2 separate regions of the Homo sapiens genome follow, and region 2 is linked to region 1. The links come from fine-mapping of genetic effects on gene expression. Tissue or cell type: whole blood. Region 1 holds a variant in brackets; the other region holds the start of a gene. All regions are shown on one strand. Distances are from middle to middle.

Region 1 (10,624 bases):
ATGAAAGAGAGATTGTAGGAGATTCGGAGTTAGAGAAGATGTAACAATGGTAGCAGGGGTCAGGGAGACTGGAAGATGCTGTCTTGTTGGCTTTGAAGTGGAGGAAGGGGCCATGAGCCAAGGAATGCAGGTTTCTTCTAGAAACTGGAAAAGGCAAAGGAATGGAATTTCCCATAGAGCCTCCAGAAGTAATGCAGCCCTGCCAACACCTTGATTTTAGCTCAGTGAAACCCATTTCAGACTTCAAACTTCCAGAACTGTAAGATAGTAAGTTTATTTAAAGCCATTAAATTTGTGGTAATTTGTTGCAACAGCAATAGGAAAGTAATACAATATCCAAGCTATTGGAGGGAAAAAAATGAAGATCATAAACACTTAGTCAATCCAAGGAAGGATGAAAGGAAAGAAACAGAGAACAAGTAGGACAAATAGAAAGCCCAGGATAAAATATAGGTTTAAATTCATATATATATCAGCCAGTTATCTTAAATATAAGTGGAATAAATATTACAGTCAAAAGACAAAGATTGTTTATCTGGACTAAAACACTTTAACTAAATGCTATTTATAAGAGACATATCTAAAACATGAGGAGACAGAAAGGTTGGTAAACAAATGGAAACAGTAAACAGAAAAAGATATTCCATACAAATGCTTTCTAAAAGAAAGCTGCATAGCTATAACTATCAGACAAAATTGTTTTCAGGGTAAAAGCATTTCTAGAAATTAAAAAGTTACCATAATGATAAGAGATTTAAATCACCAATATGTTAAAACAGTTTTAAATCTTTATGACTGGACTAAATACAGTTAAAATACAAATAAATACAAAGATTGTCAGAGTGGATAGTAGAACACAATCTAACTACATACTACTTATAAAAGACACCTTGAGCATAACACAGAAAGGTTGAAAAGAAAATGATGGAAAGAAGATATAACATGCAAATATTAACTGAAAGAAATTCTAGTTATATCAGACAAGCCAACATTAAGGCTTCTAGAAGTATTACTAAAGATTGAAAGGGAGATTAATAAATTTATATGTACCTCATAAATTAGAATAAAAATATATGAAACAAATCTGATAGAACTAAAAGGAGAAATAGATATATCCACAGTCATAGTTGGAGTTTTCTTTTTAGATGCATCTCTTTTAGTACTATATAAAACAAGCAGAAAAAAAAATCAATAGAGATACATATTTTTTTCCTGCTTTTTTTTTTTTTTTCAGACAAGGTCTCACCCTGTCACCCAGGCTGTAGTGCAGTGATGCGATCACGGCTTCCCACAGCCTCCACTTCTTGAGCTGAAGTGATCCTCCCACCTCAGCTTCCCGTGTAACTGGAACTACAGGTATGCACTACTATGCCTGGCTAATTTTTTAATTTTTTGTAGAGATAGGGGTCTCCCTATATTGTACAGGCTGGTCTTGAACTCCTGGACTCAAATGATCCTCCTGCCTCGGCCCCCACAAAATACTGGGATTTACAGGCATGAGGCACTATGCCCTGCCAAGATACAGAAGATTTTAACATGACCAACGAATTTGATTTAGTGATGTACATGGAACATTGCACCTCAAAGTTGCAAATGTACATGGAACATTTATTAAAATTGATGATATACTATGAATATCATTGATTGTATACAATTTCTCTGATCACAGTGGAATTCAGCTACAAATCAATATCAATAAGATAGCCAGGAAATCTAAATTAAAGAAAAACAAAAGAATAAGACAGATGGAGAACTGAAATAGGGCTTTGTTATTAATAAAGCTAATTTAGATATGGCATGTATCTGCAGGCAAGTAGGTTTTCTAATACAGACAAATCTTTCTCAAAGAAACTAGAGACAGCAAGAAGCATTCCTACCCTAACGTAGTTCAAAGGTGCAAAAGTAAAAAAGAGAATGGTGTGTTTCTAGCACATCAGGTAGTTATATTTTGAAGCTTGGTATTTGCAGAAGGAAGTAGTGGAAGATGAGCAAGAGAAGGGTCACATATTGTATTTAGCAGAATAAATTTTATCCTGAAAGTGATAGAGAGATATAGCATTACTTAAAGCAGACGAAGGACCTTAGCAGCACAGTGGGGGGATAAAAAGAATTTGAAAGGCAAACCTATTAGCTGGCTCTCTGTAATTTGGGGTATCATAACATCTGAATCAAAATAGTCAAATTGAGAATAGAAAGGAAGGTGTGAAAATTACAAGGATGGCCAGGCGCGGTGGCTCACACCTGTAATCCCAGCACTTTGGGAGGCCGACGCGGGTGGATCACGAGGTTAGGAGTTCAAGACCAACCTGGCCAAGATGGTGAAACCCCGTCTCTACTAAAAATACAAAAATTAGCCGGGCATGGTAGCGGGTGCCTGTAATCCCAGCTACTCAGGAGGCTGAGGCAGGGAATTGCTTGAATCCGGAGGCGGAGGTTGCAGTGAGCCAAGATCGCACCACTGCACTCCAGCCTGGATGACAGAGCGAGACTCCATCTCCAAAAAAAAAAAAAAAAAAAAAAAAAAGAAAAGAAAAAGAAAATTACAAGGATTAAGGGGCTCTACTCAACAGAATTCTAGCCCTTGCCTATTTCACAGTTCACCTGCTAACTACTCTTTCTGTTGCTTAGTACCTTGCAAAATAATGCAAAGTGGGTACAACTCAAGATTTTTGCAATTTCTGGAATGCTCCACCATCAAGAACTTTGCTAGCTGATCCTTTCTTGTGTTTATGTTCCAGCTGGATTGTTACCTCCTCAGAGAAGTCTTTTCTGATTATACAAAGTTAACATTCATTCCTTTTGAATCCTGGTTAATTTTCCTCATTGGATTGAATGTATCATGTGTTTGTTTATTTTTCTGTTTATCTCCCTCCTCTGTTGTAAGCGCTCCAAAAGCTTGTCTGTCTTGTTCCCTATTTTGTCTTCAGTGCCTAGCAAATTGCCTAGTACATAGTAGATGCTCAATAAATGCTTGTAAGTGAATGGATGAATTGGATGTGTGGATTTTGGGAGCAGAAGGACTCAAGAATGGCACTTGTATTTCTGGCTTAGTTAATTAGCTGGATAGTGGCACTGTAGTAGGAAATACCAGAGGAAAAGCAGGTTTGCAGGGGAAAGTCGTGATGATGTACTGTCCTTTATTTGTGAGAATACCATAGACAGGCTGTTCCTAGACTATGTCAGACCAGCAGAGGCAAATAAGCCCTTTGGGAATCTCAAAAGGAAGTGATATTAAAAGTATTTTAACAACTTGTCGTGCATGAGCACTGACTGTAATATTGGAGCAGAGTCATGGAGGCCCCTGCTTTTTCAGACATTTACCTCAGGGGTGCCTAGGGAGGAGTTAAAGTGACTAGGGTGTTTATAGCTTTTATCTATTGATATGGAAGTATTTAAGTCTTTTTACAATCTGTCCTCATACTAGAATGTTCTAGCTAAATGTCCCCATATCATTTCTGGCATTGGGTAAAGTGCCTAGCATGAATCAGATCTGTTGTAAGTGGGATCTGATGATAATAAATATAATAATGATGCCGCTGATGACAGCAAACATTTATTCTTAAAACAGCCCTACCACTAGTTTTATACTTTATGTGCATTACTTTGGTTGATCATCACAATAGCCCTAAGAAGTGTTTTGTTGTTGTTGTTGTTGTTGTTTTTTAATTGATGAAGAAGTTGAAGGTTAAAAAGGTTAAGTAACAGATTTAAGGTCATATAGCTAATAAGTGAAAGTTACAGGATTGGAACATAGGCAGTATACTTTTAACCATTTATATTTGTTTCTCCTTGTTGCTAAAAAAGCAAACATGTGGCTATGTAGATAGCCAGCACATAGTCTGTTAACCTGACTGGTCCTGCCCTTCTACCCATACCCTACCTAAAGCAATGTGGTGTATTAGAAAAAGTTGTGAAGCTTAGGGTTTGGTTCTAAACCTAACATTATCTAGTTGCTTGACTCATTATTTTCTTTGGGTAAAATTAGAAGGACTTTGATAAAATGATTTCTTTTTTCTTTTTTTTTTTTTTTGAGATGGAATTTTGCTCTTGTTGCCCAGTCTGGAGTGCAATGGCGTGATCTCGGCTCACTGCAACCTCCGCCTCCCGGGTTCAAGTGGTTCTCCTGCCTCAGCCTCCTGAGTAGCTGGGATTACAGGCATGTGCCACCATGCCCAACTAATTTTTTATTTTTAGTAGAGATGGGGTTTCTTCAGGTTGGTCAGGCTGGTCTCGAACTCCCGACCTTAGGTGATCCACCCGCCTTGGCCTCCCAAAGTGCTGGGACTACAGGCATGAGCCACCATGCCTGGCCCCTGATAAAATGATTTCTAAGCCTTCGGCTCTGCTAATGTTTTTGAGGCCTCTTTTTCTGTTAATGTTCTGTAATTCTACTTATGTATTATTTTTTCAGGTTTATTGAGGTCTAATTGATATGTAGTAAGTTACA[T/A]ATACTTGAAATCGATAATTTGATGTTTTCATGTTTTCATGTATGTATGTACCTATGAAACCATCACCACAGTCAAGATAATGAGTATAGGCTCGGCACGGTGGCTCATGCCTGTAATCCCAGCACTTTGGGAGGCTGAAGCAGGCGGATCACGAGGTCAGGAGATCGAGACCATCCTGGCTAACACGGTGAAACCCCGTCTCTACTAAAAAATACAAAAAATTAGCCATGCGTGGTGGTGGGCACCTGTAGTCCCAGCTACTTGGGAGGCTAAGGCAGGAGAATGGCGTGAACCCAGAAGACAGAGCTTACAGTGAGCAGAGATCACGCCACTGCACTCCAGCCTGGGCGACAGAGCGAGACACTGTCTCAAAAAAAAAAAAAAAAAAGATAATGAGTATATTACCCCCACTCCAAAGTTTCCTCCTGCCCCACCAAGTCCTTCCTTTCTGTCCCTCTCTGTGCTTCATCTCCCCACTCCTCACTGTCCCGAGGCAGCCTCTGATCTACTTTTTGTTACTATTGATTAATTTCCATTTTCTACAATTTTATATAAATTGAATCATGCAGTGGAGTTCAGCTACAAATCAGTATTAATAAGATAGCTAGAAAAGCCAAATTAAAGACAAAATAAGAACTGAAATATGACTTTGTTATTAATAAAGCAAATGCAAGAGAATATGGCACATATCTGTATGGCACATACTCTTTTTGTTGGCATTCTTTTGCCCAGCATAATTATTTTGAGATTCATCCATATTGTTGCATGTTTAACCAGCTTACTTCTTTATTTCTGAGTAGTGTTCCATTGAGCCACAGTTTGTTTTCTAAATGGATTAATCTGTTGATAGATACTTGATAGTTTTCAATTTTTGGCTATTTTGAATAGATTTGCTATGAACACCAGTGTACAACTCTTTGTGTAAACATGTGATTGCTTTTTTCTTAAGTAAATATGTAGTAATGGCATGTCTGGATCATGTAGCAGGTATATGTTCAACTTTAGAAACTTGTCAAACTGTTTTCTAAAGTGGTCATGCCATTTTACAGTCCCACCAGTAGAATAGGAGAATACTACTTGTCACATATCATAAACATTTGGAATGGTCAATCTTTGTAATTTTATCCTTTTTAATCAATGTATATTGTTGTCTTTTTATAGTTTTAATTTGCATTTTCCTAATCACTAACTGTGTTGAGCATGTTTTCATGTGCTTTTTGGCCACTTGTAGATTTTTTTGGAGAAGTGTCTTTTCAAATCTTTTGCCTATTTTTTAATTGGGTTATTTTTCTTTTTATTATTAAGTTGTAATAGTTTTTTATATATGCTGGATATAATCCATATTTTATTGGATGTGTGATATGCAAATATCTTCTCTCAGTCTCCGAGTGGTCTTTTCACTTTGTTAATGGTGTCTTTTAAAGCACAAAGTTTTTAATTTCAATTAAATCTAGTACATCAAATTTTTCTTTGATCATGTGTGCTTTTGGTGTTGTGTCTAAGAAATTACTGCCTAACCCAAGTTTACAAAGATTTACTCCTATGTTTTCTTCTAAGAGTTTTGAAGTTTTAACTCTTACATATAGGTGCATAATCAGTTTTGAGTTAGTTTTTGTATATGGTGGGAGGCAGGGATCCAATTTTTTTTTTTGTGGGAAGGGCATGTGGATATAATGTGGATATAAATATTGATATTCAGTGTCCTAGCACCATTTGTTGAAAACACTATTTCTTTCCCTTTAAAATTTCTTGGCACCTTTGTTAAACATCAATTGACTATAAATGTAAGGGTGTATTTCTGGGCTCTGAATTTAATTCTATTGATTTATTTATCTGTCCTTATACTAATATTATATTGTCCTGATGACTAGTTTTGTAGTAAATTTTGAAGTTAGTCTTTCCACTTTGTTCTTTTTTTTTCCCCAAGATTGTTTTGGCTATTCTGCACCCTTTACGTTCCCATATGAGTTTTAGGATCAGCTTGTCAATTTCTGTAAAAAAGCTGGAAGGGATTTTGGTAGAGATTGTGTTGAATCTGTAGATCAATTTGGGGAGTATTGCCACCTTAGCAATATTAATAATATTACCATTTTAATGATATTACATCTTCCAATCCATGAACATGGGATATCTTCACAAGTATTGAGCTCTTCTTTAATATCTTTCAGTAATGTCTTGTGGTTTGCAGTGTATAAGTCTTGTACTTCATTTCTTAAAGTATTTGTATTTTAAGTTTTTAAAAATGTTATTATGAATGGAATTGTTTTCTATTTCATTTTTGGAGTGTTCATGGTTAGTATATAGAAATGCAATTAACTTTTGTATATTTCTCTTATATCTTGCAACCTTAGTGAACTTCTGGTAAGTTTGTTAGTGAATTTCTTAGATTTTTTTTTTTTATTTACAAGATCTTGTTGTCTGTGAATGAAGAGTGTTTTACTTCTTGATTTCCAAGATGAATGCCTTTGACAAAATATTTTTAGCCTAATTGGCTTAGCTAGAATCTCAAATATAGTGTTGAATAAAGGTAGAGAGAGTAGAAATCTTTTTTTTTTTTCCTGGCTTTAGAGGGAGACTTTCAATCTTTCACCAGTTCCTGTGATGTTAACTATAGATTTTTTCATAGATGCTGTTTATTATTATGTTGAAAGATTCTCTTCTATTCTCAGTATTTTTATCACGAATATTGGATTTTGTCAAATTTTTGTATCTATTGAGATTATCCTATAGTTTTTGTCCTTTATTCTGTTAATATGATGCATTACATGAATTGATTATCAGATGTTAAACTAATCTTGCAATCCTGGGATAAATCTTGCTTGGTTATGATACATAAATCTTTTATACGTTTCTGGATTTGGCTTGCCAGTATTTCATTGAGGATTTTGGGTGTATGTTCTCAAGGGGTATCCATCCTTTTATTTTTAACTTATTTGTATTTAAAATGTTTCTTGTAGGCAGCATATACTTGTATCATACTTCTTTATCCAGTCTGGCAATTTCTGCCTTTTAATTGGCATATTTTAAAGTATTCACACTTGTGATTCTTGATATAATTAAGTTCAAATCTATCATCTTGCTATTTGTTTTCTACTCATCCTATCTGTTCTTTGTTCCCCCTTTCTTTTTCTGCTTTCTTTTATTAATTGAGTATTTTAAAATTATTCCATTTTATCTCCTTTGTTGGCTTATAAGCTGTAACTCTGTTTTCTTATTTTAGTGGTTGTGTTAGGGTTTATAGTATATATCTTTAACTTTCTACAGTCAGTCCTCAAATGATATGATACCACATCACATATACTATAATTATTTACATTTTTACTTTTATTTCTCCCCCGGCCTTTGTGCTATTGATGTAATACATTTTAGTTTTACATATGTTACAAACCTTTTGTCTCAGTATAATTTTTTTGTCTAAGCTTTAATAAACTTGTAAAGAAATCCCAATAATAATAAATCATGTATTTATACTTATGGTGCACTTTATTCCTTTGTGTAGATTCATATTTCTATCAGATATTATCCTTTGGCCTGAAGGACATCATTTAACACTTCTTGTGGTGTAGCTCTGTTGGTAATATGTTCTTTCAACTTTTGTATGTCTGAAGAAGTCTTTATGTCACCTACATTTTTGAAAGATTTTCTCTGAGTGTCAAATTCTAGGTTGATGGGTTTTTTTCTTTCAGTACATTAAAGATCTTGCTCTACTGTTTTTGTTTTGTTTCCATTGAGAGCTATGCTACTATCCTTTTTAATTAATTAATTAATTTTTTGAGACAGAGTCTCTCTGTGTCACCCAGGCTGGAGTGCAGTGGCATGATCTCAGCTTATTGCAGCCTCTGCCTCCCAGATTCAAGTGATTCTTATGCCTCAGCCTCCCGAGTAGCTGGGATTACAAGCACACACCACCATGCTCAACTATATGCTGCTATTCTTAATCTTTGCTTTGATGTACATAACATGTCTTTTTTCTCTGGGTGCTTTTAAGATTTTCCCATCACTGTTTTTGAATGATGTTATTATGGCGTGGTGTGCATTGGTGTAGTTTTCTTCATGTTTCCTGACCTTAGTGTTGGCGGAGGTTCTTAGATCTGTGGTTTGTAGTTATCAAGTTTGGAAAATTTTGGCCATTATTTCTTCAAATATGCCCTCCCCCCTATCCCCAGTCTTCTTTGTGGACTCCAAATACATGTATTTTGGGTCACTTGAAATTGTCCCATGAGTCACAGATGCTTTTTATCATTTTGATGTTAGTCTTTTCTCTGTGTCTCATTTTAGTTAGTTTATCTTACTATGCCTTCAAGTTCATTAATATTTTCTTTTGCAATATCCAATCTGGTATTAATCCCATCCAGTATATTTTCCATCTCAGACATTATAGTTTTCATCTCTAGAAATTGGATTTGGGTCTTTTTAATATCGTCCATATCTCTACTTAACCTTTTGAACATATTGAGTCCAGCTATAACTATTTTAGTGTCCTCAACTGCCTTGTCTCAATTTTAGGTTGTTTCTAATTGATTGATTTTTTTTTCCTCTTCATTATGGGTTCTATATATTTTTTTGCTTCCTTGTATACCTGGTACTTTTTTTAATTGAATACCAGACATTGTGAGTTTTACCTTGAATGCTGGATATTTTTGGATTTCTGTAAATTTGCTTTGGGACACAGTTAAGTTTTGTGTAAACAATTTGATCCCTTTTCCAGTCTGATTTGTGGGGACAAGCATCACTCCTGACCTTGGTGAATACCAGTTATGTATAGTTTTTGTAAATTTTTCTGGTGTTTTTTTCCCGCAGTCTTGTGTAGCTTCCTTTTTTTGTGTGTGTGCTGATCAGTACTCTGTTGAATACTTGAGTGGGACCCTCTGCTGATCTCCATTGTTCTCTGTATGTACCTCTTTATTCTACAGTAGTCTGTTATGCAAACTCTCGCTGCCTTATTCTCCACATACTTTCAGCTTTGTCTCTTCATTTCAGAAAATCTTCTCGGCTTTGCTTGGGTAATTTCCCATGGCCTGGAAACTCCCTCAAGGGAGTAAGGTGGAAGGCTTACCTCATTTAGTTCCTATTTCTCAGTTCTTTGCTGTCTGATAGCCAGTGTCTTGAAAATTGCTGTTCCATATATTTTATTTGCTTTTCAGGTGGTAGGATAAATCTGTCTCTGTTACTCTATTTTGTACAAAAGTAAAATATCCATGTGTTTTTTAACTGTCTTTCCTGTAGTGTATTACTGGGTGTTCATTTTAATTAGATTTCACATTTCATTCATATAAACTTTTCTCTCTTTCTACTACCTTCCTCCATCTTCCCCAACTCATTTTGGATGACTCAAGGCCATCAATGTTGAGGACTTTTCCCCCTGAAGTAGCAGTCATTTTTAACCAATTCTACCACATTCCTGTCATGGTTAATGTTAAATATTTGCAAACTGATTGGGGTCAGAGATGTGGTTTGATGAATATATTCTTAGTTTTTATGGGAGATAGTTGTACTTTGTTTCCTTATCTATCAACTAGGTATTTGCTGAGTTCCAATTATATTCCCAGCATCATGTAGTGTGCTGAGTGCTAAGCAGAAAGTGAGTACAATATTGTTTTTGAGCAGTTTATGTTCTAACAGGGGAGACAGAACAAGATCTCATAAAATGTTAAGAAAAATGTTAAACTTTTTTTTTTTAAAGACACTAGACATTTAGAGATGAGAGACTATTCGTTTGATTTGGGTGGTTACGGAGTATTTTACTCTGATATGCTGGGGCTGAACAGGGCCTTTGAAAACGCATACATTTTAAAAATGGAAATAGTCACAAGATGTAATGGAAGAGAAGATACCATTTATGATAGCCAAGCAAATTATACAGGCATACACTTAATGAGAAATCTTCAGAATTTTTATGAGAACTCTAAAAACTCCTAAAGGTATAAGCATAAACTTGAACAAATATAAAGATATACTATGTTCTGTGTAGGAAGACTCAATATTCTTAGAGATGTCAGTTTTAAAAAAATAATTTAGAAGTTTAATATGATCCTGATGAAAGTACCATCAGATTTTTCCTCCTAGGGCTAGACAGATTATAAAGTTCATTTTCGAGAACAGACAAGCAAGAATAGCTAAGAAAATGCAGAAAGTGAAGAGGGGTAAAGATGACTTGTCTTGCTACATGTTATAAC
Region 2 (8,000 bases), 46 kb before region 1:
TTGTCCAGGGTGGAGTATAGTGGTGCGATCTCTATTCACTGCAACCTCTGCCCCCCAGGTTCAAGCAATTCTTGTGCCTCAGCCTCCCAAGTAGCTGGGATTACAGGCACCTGCCAACATGCCCTGCTAATTTTTCTAGTTTTAGTAGAGATGGGGTTTCACCATATCAGCCAGGCTGGTCTCCAACTCCTGGCCTCAAGTGATCCGCCCACCTCGGCCTCCCAAATGCTGGGATTACAGTTGTGAGCCATGGTGCCTGGCCATTTTATGAGGATTAAATAAGCAGATGTACATAAACATGGTTAGAAGAGTGCCTCACACATGATGGGTGCTCAGTTGATGTCATTCCTCTCTGCCTTCCTCCTTGAAAGTTTTAGAAAAAGACTCAGTGGAGGAGAGAGTTCACGCGAAATTATTAGGACCACAGTGATCAGGTTACAGAATGGTGAAGCTGGAGATGACTCTAGGGTGCCTAGAGGGGGGTTCTTAAATTCCACCTTTCCCAGGCATCACCTAAAAATATACTGACATAGAAAATCTTGGAATGGGCCCCTGGAATTGTTAGTTTAACAAAAAAAGTTCCAGTAGCCTTTGATGCCTTTTTTTTTTTTTTTTTAAATTACTGATCTGGTCCAAACCCTCATTTTATTTTTCCTCAAAAACGTTTTTTAAAACTTTTATTCCACTTTCAAGAGTACATGTGCATGTTGGTTGTATAGATAAATTACTGTGTCGTAGGAGTTTGGTGTATATATGATGTCATCACCCAGGTAATAAGCATAGTACCCAGTAGGTAGTTTTTCAATCCCCTCCCTCCTCCTGCCTCCCACCCTGAAGCAGGCCCTGGTGCCTGTTTTTCCCTTCTTTGTGTCCATGTGTATGTACTCAATGCCAAACCCTCATTTGAGAGATGAGCCCCAGAGGGGTGAAGTGACAGCCCTAAGCCATGCAGAAGTTTCAATCAATGATTCGTTCATCATTCAATATATGTTTTCTGAACACCTTCTGTGTTCAAGGCACCATGCTGGCTTCTAGGGGGACTCAGTGGTGAAAAGCCTGACCCCAGTACCTGTTCTTACAGAACTCATAGCCTAGTGGGAGCCTAGATATCAGACACGGATCAGGTAGACAGTATGGACAATCATACATGGTCATAAATGCTTTCCATCCTGTACAAAGTAAAGGCTGCAGCGTCAGAGGTCGCAGGGGGACCTGACTTAGATTGGGGAACCAGAGAAGGCTCCTCTTAGGAAGTGACCTTTCAGATGAGACCTGAAGGGTTTGCAGAAAAGAACCAGGTGGAGAGTGGGCAAAGCCAGGGAAAGAGCATGGCACAGTTGAGGCACCGAGGGGGTGCCAGTTTGACTGACGGAGGCAAGGGAGCGCCCAGGTGGGGCTGCAGGGCCACCATGCAGGCCTTTTCTCACTGGTGTTCCCCGGTTCTGTCCATAGCAAACGGGCCCCATCAGTGCCACCCTGGTGATGACACGCCCCATCAAAGGGCCCCGGGAAATCCAGCTGGACTTGGAAATGATCACTGTCAACACTGTCATCAACTTCAGAGGCAGCTCCGTGATCCGACTGCGGATATATGTGTCGCAGTACCCATTCTGAGCCTCGGGCTGGAGCCTCCGACGCTGCCTCTCATTGGCACCAAGGGACAGGAGAAGAGAGGAAATAACAGAGAGAATGAGAGCGACACAGACGTTAGGCATTTCCTGCTGAACGTTTCCCCGAAGAGTCAGCCCCGACTTCCTGACTCTCACCTGTACTATTGCAGACCTGTCACCCTGCAGGACTTGCCACCCCCAGTTCCTATGACACAGTTATCAAAAAGTATTATCATTGCTCCCCTGATAGAAGATTGTTGGTGAATTTTCAAGGCCTTCAGTTTATTTCCACTATTTTCAAAGAAAATAGATTAGGTTTGCGGGGGTCTGAGTCTATGTTCAAAGACTGTGAACAGCTTGCTGTCACTTCTTCACCTCTTCCACTCCTTCTCTCACTGTGTTACTGCTTTGCAAAGACCCGGGAGCTGGCGGGGAACCCTGGGAGTAGCTAGTTTGCTTTTTGCGTACACAGAGAAGGCTATGTAAACAAACCACAGCAGGATCGAAGGGTTTTTAGAGAATGTGTTTCAAAACCATGCCTGGTATTTTCAACCATAAAAGAAGTTTCAGTTGTCCTTAAATTTGTATAACGGTTTAATTCTGTCTTGTTCATTTTGAGTATTTTTAAAAAATATGTCGTAGAATTCCTTCGAAAGGCCTTCAGACACATGCTATGTTCTGTCTTCCCAAACCCAGTCTCCTCTCCATTTTAGCCCAGTGTTTTCTTTGAGGACCCCTTAATCTTGCTTTCTTTAGAATTTTTACCCAATTGGATTGGAATGCAGAGGTCTCCAAACTGATTAAATATTTGAAGAGAGCTTGTGTTTGGTTCATTTTGACATCATAGACGAGTCAGCCTTTGGGGTTCTAGTTCTGTTTAAACCTGTTTATTGTGCGCTGGCTTAGAAAGCTCTCCAGAGAGCTAGGGCATTATCTGTGACTCTGGCAAATTGATGGGAGGGGGGCGGTGGGGCAGAGAAATAGGGGTCGTGGGGAAGTTAGGGGGAGGCATCATCCCTGAGTCCTGTTTCATCTGATTAGAAAACAACCAACAATCCTTCTCTTACGTAGATTATTTCCGGTGCTCCTGCAGAACAGGAATGTATTCAAGTTACTTTAAACCAGTGGCCTTCAACCCTGGCTGCATAGACGGATAACCAGTAGAACTTTGGAGGAAAGATTGATTCCCCGGGACATGCCCCCAGACACTCTGATGTCATTGGGCTTAGGTAGGGCCCGGCCATCAGGATTTTTGAAAACTTGACTATGTAGCCAGAGTTGAGAATGTATTGTTATAAACCCTAGAAAGAGAGGTGGACAGATGGGGCTGGAGCCCTAGCTGCCTTGCCCTCAATGTCTTTTCTGCTCATTGTAGGATACATTATTCTTTTCCTGGTCAGGGCCTCTGGACATCCTTCAAGTCTTAGAACCCTGTGCAGGGGCCAAGAGAGTCAACATTGCAAGTCACAGGAGAACAGGTTGGGATGGCTGTCTTTATGTGCCATCCCAGGAATCAACCCAAGGCTTCAGGAAAAAAGTGCACTCCCTGATAGCTGAGGTGGAGTCTACAGATCCATCTGAGGGTGCTCCCATCCTACCTGTTGGTGAGGTATTCATTAAGGACCCCCACAGTGCCTATCAGGAGTTGTGTCCTGGACCCCTAGTCTTAGTAGGCATTCCACAGATCCTTGTGATATGGACAGGAGACAGGGAAATACTGGGTAGAAGAGGGTGGTTCCCTGGCAAAGGCCCCACCCTCAAGCCTGGGTACCCATGGCCCTAAATGAGGACAGCCATTCCTGTTTTCATCCCTAAAAAGTTGCCTTTTGGCCTGCCATGTCCCCTATCCTGTACCCATATAAACCCTGAACCCCAGGCTCCAGGCTCCAGAAGCAGACGGGGAGACAAGAAGATGAGCAGACATGAATGGCAGAAAAGCACGGCAAAGAAGGAGAGAAGAGAAGGAACATTGGGAGGAATTCGACTGGAGACGATCTGAAAACTGGCCACTGGATGGCCAAACTCCAGGGGAAGATCATCTTCCCACTCCATCCCCTGTCCAGCTCCCCATCCATCCTACTTAGAGCCACCTCCACCACTCAATAAAACCCCTGCATTCATCCTGCAAATCCATGTGTGACCTGATCCCTCCGGGATGCTGGACAAGAGCTCGGGATACAGGAAACTGTCACACTGGCCCTCTGCCCTGGCAAAAAGGGAGAGGGTCCACTAAGCTGGTTAACGCTTAAGCTGTCCACGGATGGCAAGGCTGAAAGACTGCACTGTTTCAGTGCCTACTCGGGCTTTGGAAGTCACAGACACCGACCCCGGGATGCTGTCATGGGGCTGGGGCCCAAAAGTGCTCACCCTGGTTCCTGCACCTGCCTGTCTGCGTGCTCCCCTTCCCATAAGGGGTTTTAGCTTGGGGTGGCTGAAGAGAGAGCCACACCCCTGTTGCACATCCTGTGAGGGGGCCAGGGAATTCTCCTGTTCCACTTAGTAGTATCTTAGGCCTTCAGTGGAAGGAAACAGCATGTTCCACGCCCTGTAGCATCCAAGAAGCTGCAAGTCCTCCCTCCTCACCCCAAGAGCATTTCTCACACCCACACCACACACCTCACTTTGCTGTTGGCTGTGGTTATTTTTTTCTCTAACTAAGCACATCTAAACCATGCCTAGTTGTGGTTCTTCAGTCAGGGTCAAGTGGTGTTAGCAATCACATCAGCACCAAATGGCTCAGGATGCTCTGGTTTCAAAGCTTATAAAACAGAGGGTGATTCCCTTGGGACTCACTCAGCTCGGCTCCGAAAAGCAAAGGCCAGAAGGCAGCAGTGAGCCTGGGTCCCTGCTGTGTAGGGAGACTCAGGGGCTGGGAAGAAGGATGGAATCAGAAATGCTGAAGGTTTACGTGAGCTTTGCACCGAGCGCCTCCGAACCACTGCCTCTGGGCTCAACAGAACACAGGGGTAAGTCTCCATGAACTTCTCAAAAAGAAAACTGGGAAGCTTTCTGTCTTGATGATTTGAGGACCCACTGGTTTCAGAGGTGCCACATTTGGAACCAGATCCGAGTCTTTAAGGTTTGTGTTTTATTTGTTCATGTCAAAATGTGGCTTCCTGCTTCTAAGAAAAGAAACTCAGGCTCATAAAAGCAGCCTCCAAGGGCTTCTTGGACCTCAAATTGCGCTTTCAAAATGTGGTCTGATGGGTTCAGTGTAAATGCACCAGAGGCATGTGGGATCCATTTACCTTAAAATACACTTGGGCCTAAAAATTAAGAGAAAAACAGTCCAGGGCAAAGTGTATACTGCAAAGTCAAGCTCCAAACATTTGGGAAACAGTTCTAGAGGCTGCTGGAACCCCAAATGCTACTTGCTTTACCTACCCCTTGGGAATCATCAAATGTTATTTTTTGTACAAGACTGGGGATGAGCCTGCTCTCTGATCCCAGTGCTGTGCTCTGCTGTGCAGTTCTAATGGGGCAGGCTGTTTCCTGGACCCTGAGATCTCCAGGCTCCCTGTGCCTATTCCTTGTCAGCTTTGCCCCATCCAGGAGCTGGGCTGAGCTTGTCAAGTGACCTCTGCTTTGTACCACTCCATCAGGTCCTGAAGAATGAAGGGTACCAAGGTGGAAGGGGCGCAGGATTAAGAGTAGGGACGCCTGCAAAAGCTCTCGTGTTACCACCTCATCTTCCAACTTTCATGTGGGTGAAAACGTTCATCCTAAATAATTGCTTCTAATTCTGAAGTTTTGTGATTCCTTGAAATGTACTTTGGGGATGACAGCCAGCATTTCCATTTCACTGCAATTTCAGAGTTTTGCAGTGGTTTGCCAATCATAACACTTTCTAATTGGCACAAAATCCACCTACCTGTTGCCTCTCAGGCTTGGGTAACATACTTCAGACACTTTCTTAGGTAAGTCTTGGCCCTTGGGGTGTTATTTGCCCAGATGGTAAAAACATTTAAGTAGGTCTGATTATTTCATTTTCAGTGGTTTCAACGCATTTTTGTGGCCTGGGTGGTTACTGTAATGTGCCCAAGTTGTTCATTCTGAGCCAACGGGGTCACCCACAGAGAGAAGACTTGACAAAGGAACTCTCCTCTACTCCCCTCTTGCCAGATGAAATATTGTTTGTAAAAGGTCTTTGTCTTGAGAGGATCACATACTTTGGTTAAGAATCCACTTTGGTTAAGCCGGTTGCTGGATTCAGAGACATGAACAGGATAGACAGTCCACCGATAACTTTATAATAACACCTTTTTAATAACACCTTTAATAACTTTTTAATAACTTTAAAAGTTATTAAAACTTTATAAAAAGTTAATCTAAAACTTTAATAACTTTTTAATAACACCTTTAGCCAGGGGTTTATGCAGCATACACGACAAAACTGGAATATAATGTGGTAGGTGCAGTAGCAGGGTCCACAAAATTATTTTAGTTAGATTTTAAAAATTATTAAGACATCTGTTTTATACAAGAAAAATTCTTATGAAAATTTATAGACATGTGTTTGAAATTTAGAATAAGTTGCCTCTGCTTAGAATTATTAAGTATTTTGAAAGGAAACACTAATAAATGCTAGATAAACTTTTTCTTTTTGATACAATTTGTGTTTACTTTAAATGCAATATTTTTTTATCTGAAAAAAAACGTGAGCACTTAGCAAATCTCTTCATTATTTTGGAATTGGCCAATGCTTATAAACTACAAACAAATATACAGATTGTTCCTTGTGCTGATATTTTTGTTTTCAAATTTCTTAGTCCTGTTACTTAACAAATGGCTGATATCTTTGTTGGAATCCCTGAACATAGCTAAAAGATGTTTTTTTAAAAAAAAAAAAAAAAAAAAACCAAGAGGCTCCAAGACAAAGGAGTGCACAGAGGCAAAATTTATCACTTTGGTAGCTTTTGCGGGGATGAAAGCCTCCAGTTAGAATGTTTGACTTACTAATGGTTCTTAATAATGAATCTTAGCCAGCAGCCATCAGAGAAATAAATCATTAAAGTGAGAAAATAGGTGTCAACACAGGAGTGATCTACTGAATTGCCATTTTGGTGTTCTTTCAGAGGGGAACTGCATGTTGACAGGCAGTGACTTTTTCAGGAATTTGGGATATTCTTGAGCAATAATGTAAAGATGAAGGCAGGGGGCTGGGCACAGGGGCTCATGCCTGTAATCTGGGAGGCCGAAGTGGGCAGATCACTTGAGGCCAGGAGTTCAAGACCAGCCTGGTCGACATGGTGAAACCCGTCTCTACTAAAAATACAAAAATTAGGTGGGAGTGGTGGCACACACCTATAATCCCAGCTACTCAGAGACTGAGGCAGGAGAATTGCTTGAACCCAGGAGGCAGAGGTTGCAGTGAGCTGAGATTGCACCATTGCATTTCAGCCTGGGCAACAGAGCGAGAGTCTGTCTCAAAAAAAAAAAAAAAAAAAAAAGATGAAGGCAGGGTAAATTGTACACACATACAAATACAGTGCCATTATGATACCTGTTTATTAGGATTTGAGAAATTAATTAACATTGATTTAAGGCCACAGAGTCATTGGATCACTTGATTCTGTTTAAAAGAAGTTTTCGTTTGGGTAGGATTGTTTTGGTTTCAACCTGTTCCTTTTTTCTAAGTCTTCGTTTCCAACCTTCTACTCAGAATGAATTTGACATTGCAAAACTGGCTTGTATCACGATAGCTACTATGCTTTAAAATAGGGTAGGTGCTTTGGCATCTTTGGAGTTTTAACGTATGAACCATTCATAATTTATCCCTAAAGCGAGTGTGGATTGTTTTATTTGTGAACGTTCTACATCCCCTGATCTGAAAACTTACCAAAAAAGCCAACATTGAGATGAAGCAGGGACCCCTTTTAGGGGCCTCCTTCCCCCTACTCCCCTACAAGCATGGAAATAAAGCGAAATCTTGAGTTCCTGCAAGGGAAATTCCAGGCACCCAGCTAGCCCTGAGAAGTAAGGAGCAACTTGGTAAACAAGAAGGTAATAGTAGCTTAAAACAATAGCCAGGGAAGTTAGAGTTGCGAGATGTTTGGTTCCCTCCAGAGACTAAAGGTAACATCTTAACATATATCCCTGAGTTGTTTTTCAGAAACCCAGACCCCCACCAAATGGATCCCCTGGCATGCAGACCTCAGGTAAGGGAGAACTGAGGACTGAATTCTGAGGACTGAATTCTGACCTCTGTTCTTTATTCTGGGTTTTTTTCTTTTTTTTTGCCAGGGTCTGGCTCTGTTGCCCAGGTTGGAGTGTAGTGGTGTAATCATAGCTTACTGCAGCCTCGACCTCCTGTCCTGTGATCCTCCCATCTCAGCCTTTCGAGGAGCTGGGACTACAGCTACGTGCCAACATGTCAGGCTTTTTTTTTTT

The links. PIP is the estimated chance that this variant, and not a neighbour inherited with it, causes the effect.
Region 2: TC2N starts here. The variant in region 1 is fine-mapped to the expression of TC2N in whole blood (INTERVAL, PIP 0.96).

What each region holds. Positions count from the first base shown.
Region 1 is chr14:91,816,927-91,827,550 of GRCh38, reverse strand. The region is part of intron 1 of TC2N (tandem C2 domains, nuclear); the gene reads left to right. Among named protein-coding and RNA genes, the nearest start is that of TC2N, 45 kb to the left of the region's middle. The variant T/A (reference allele first, on the strand shown) is at 4,448.
Region 2 is chr14:91,863,838-91,871,837 of GRCh38, reverse strand. It overlaps TC2N (tandem C2 domains, nuclear), which reads left to right and starts at 4,302. Exons shown (of 12, transcript NM_001128596.3): 1 at 4,302-4,576. FBLN5 (fibulin 5) reads left to right here. Exons shown (of 11, transcript NM_006329.4): 11 at 1,453-2,427. The coding sequence ends at 1,614. RefSeq lists an enhancer at 4,087-4,136.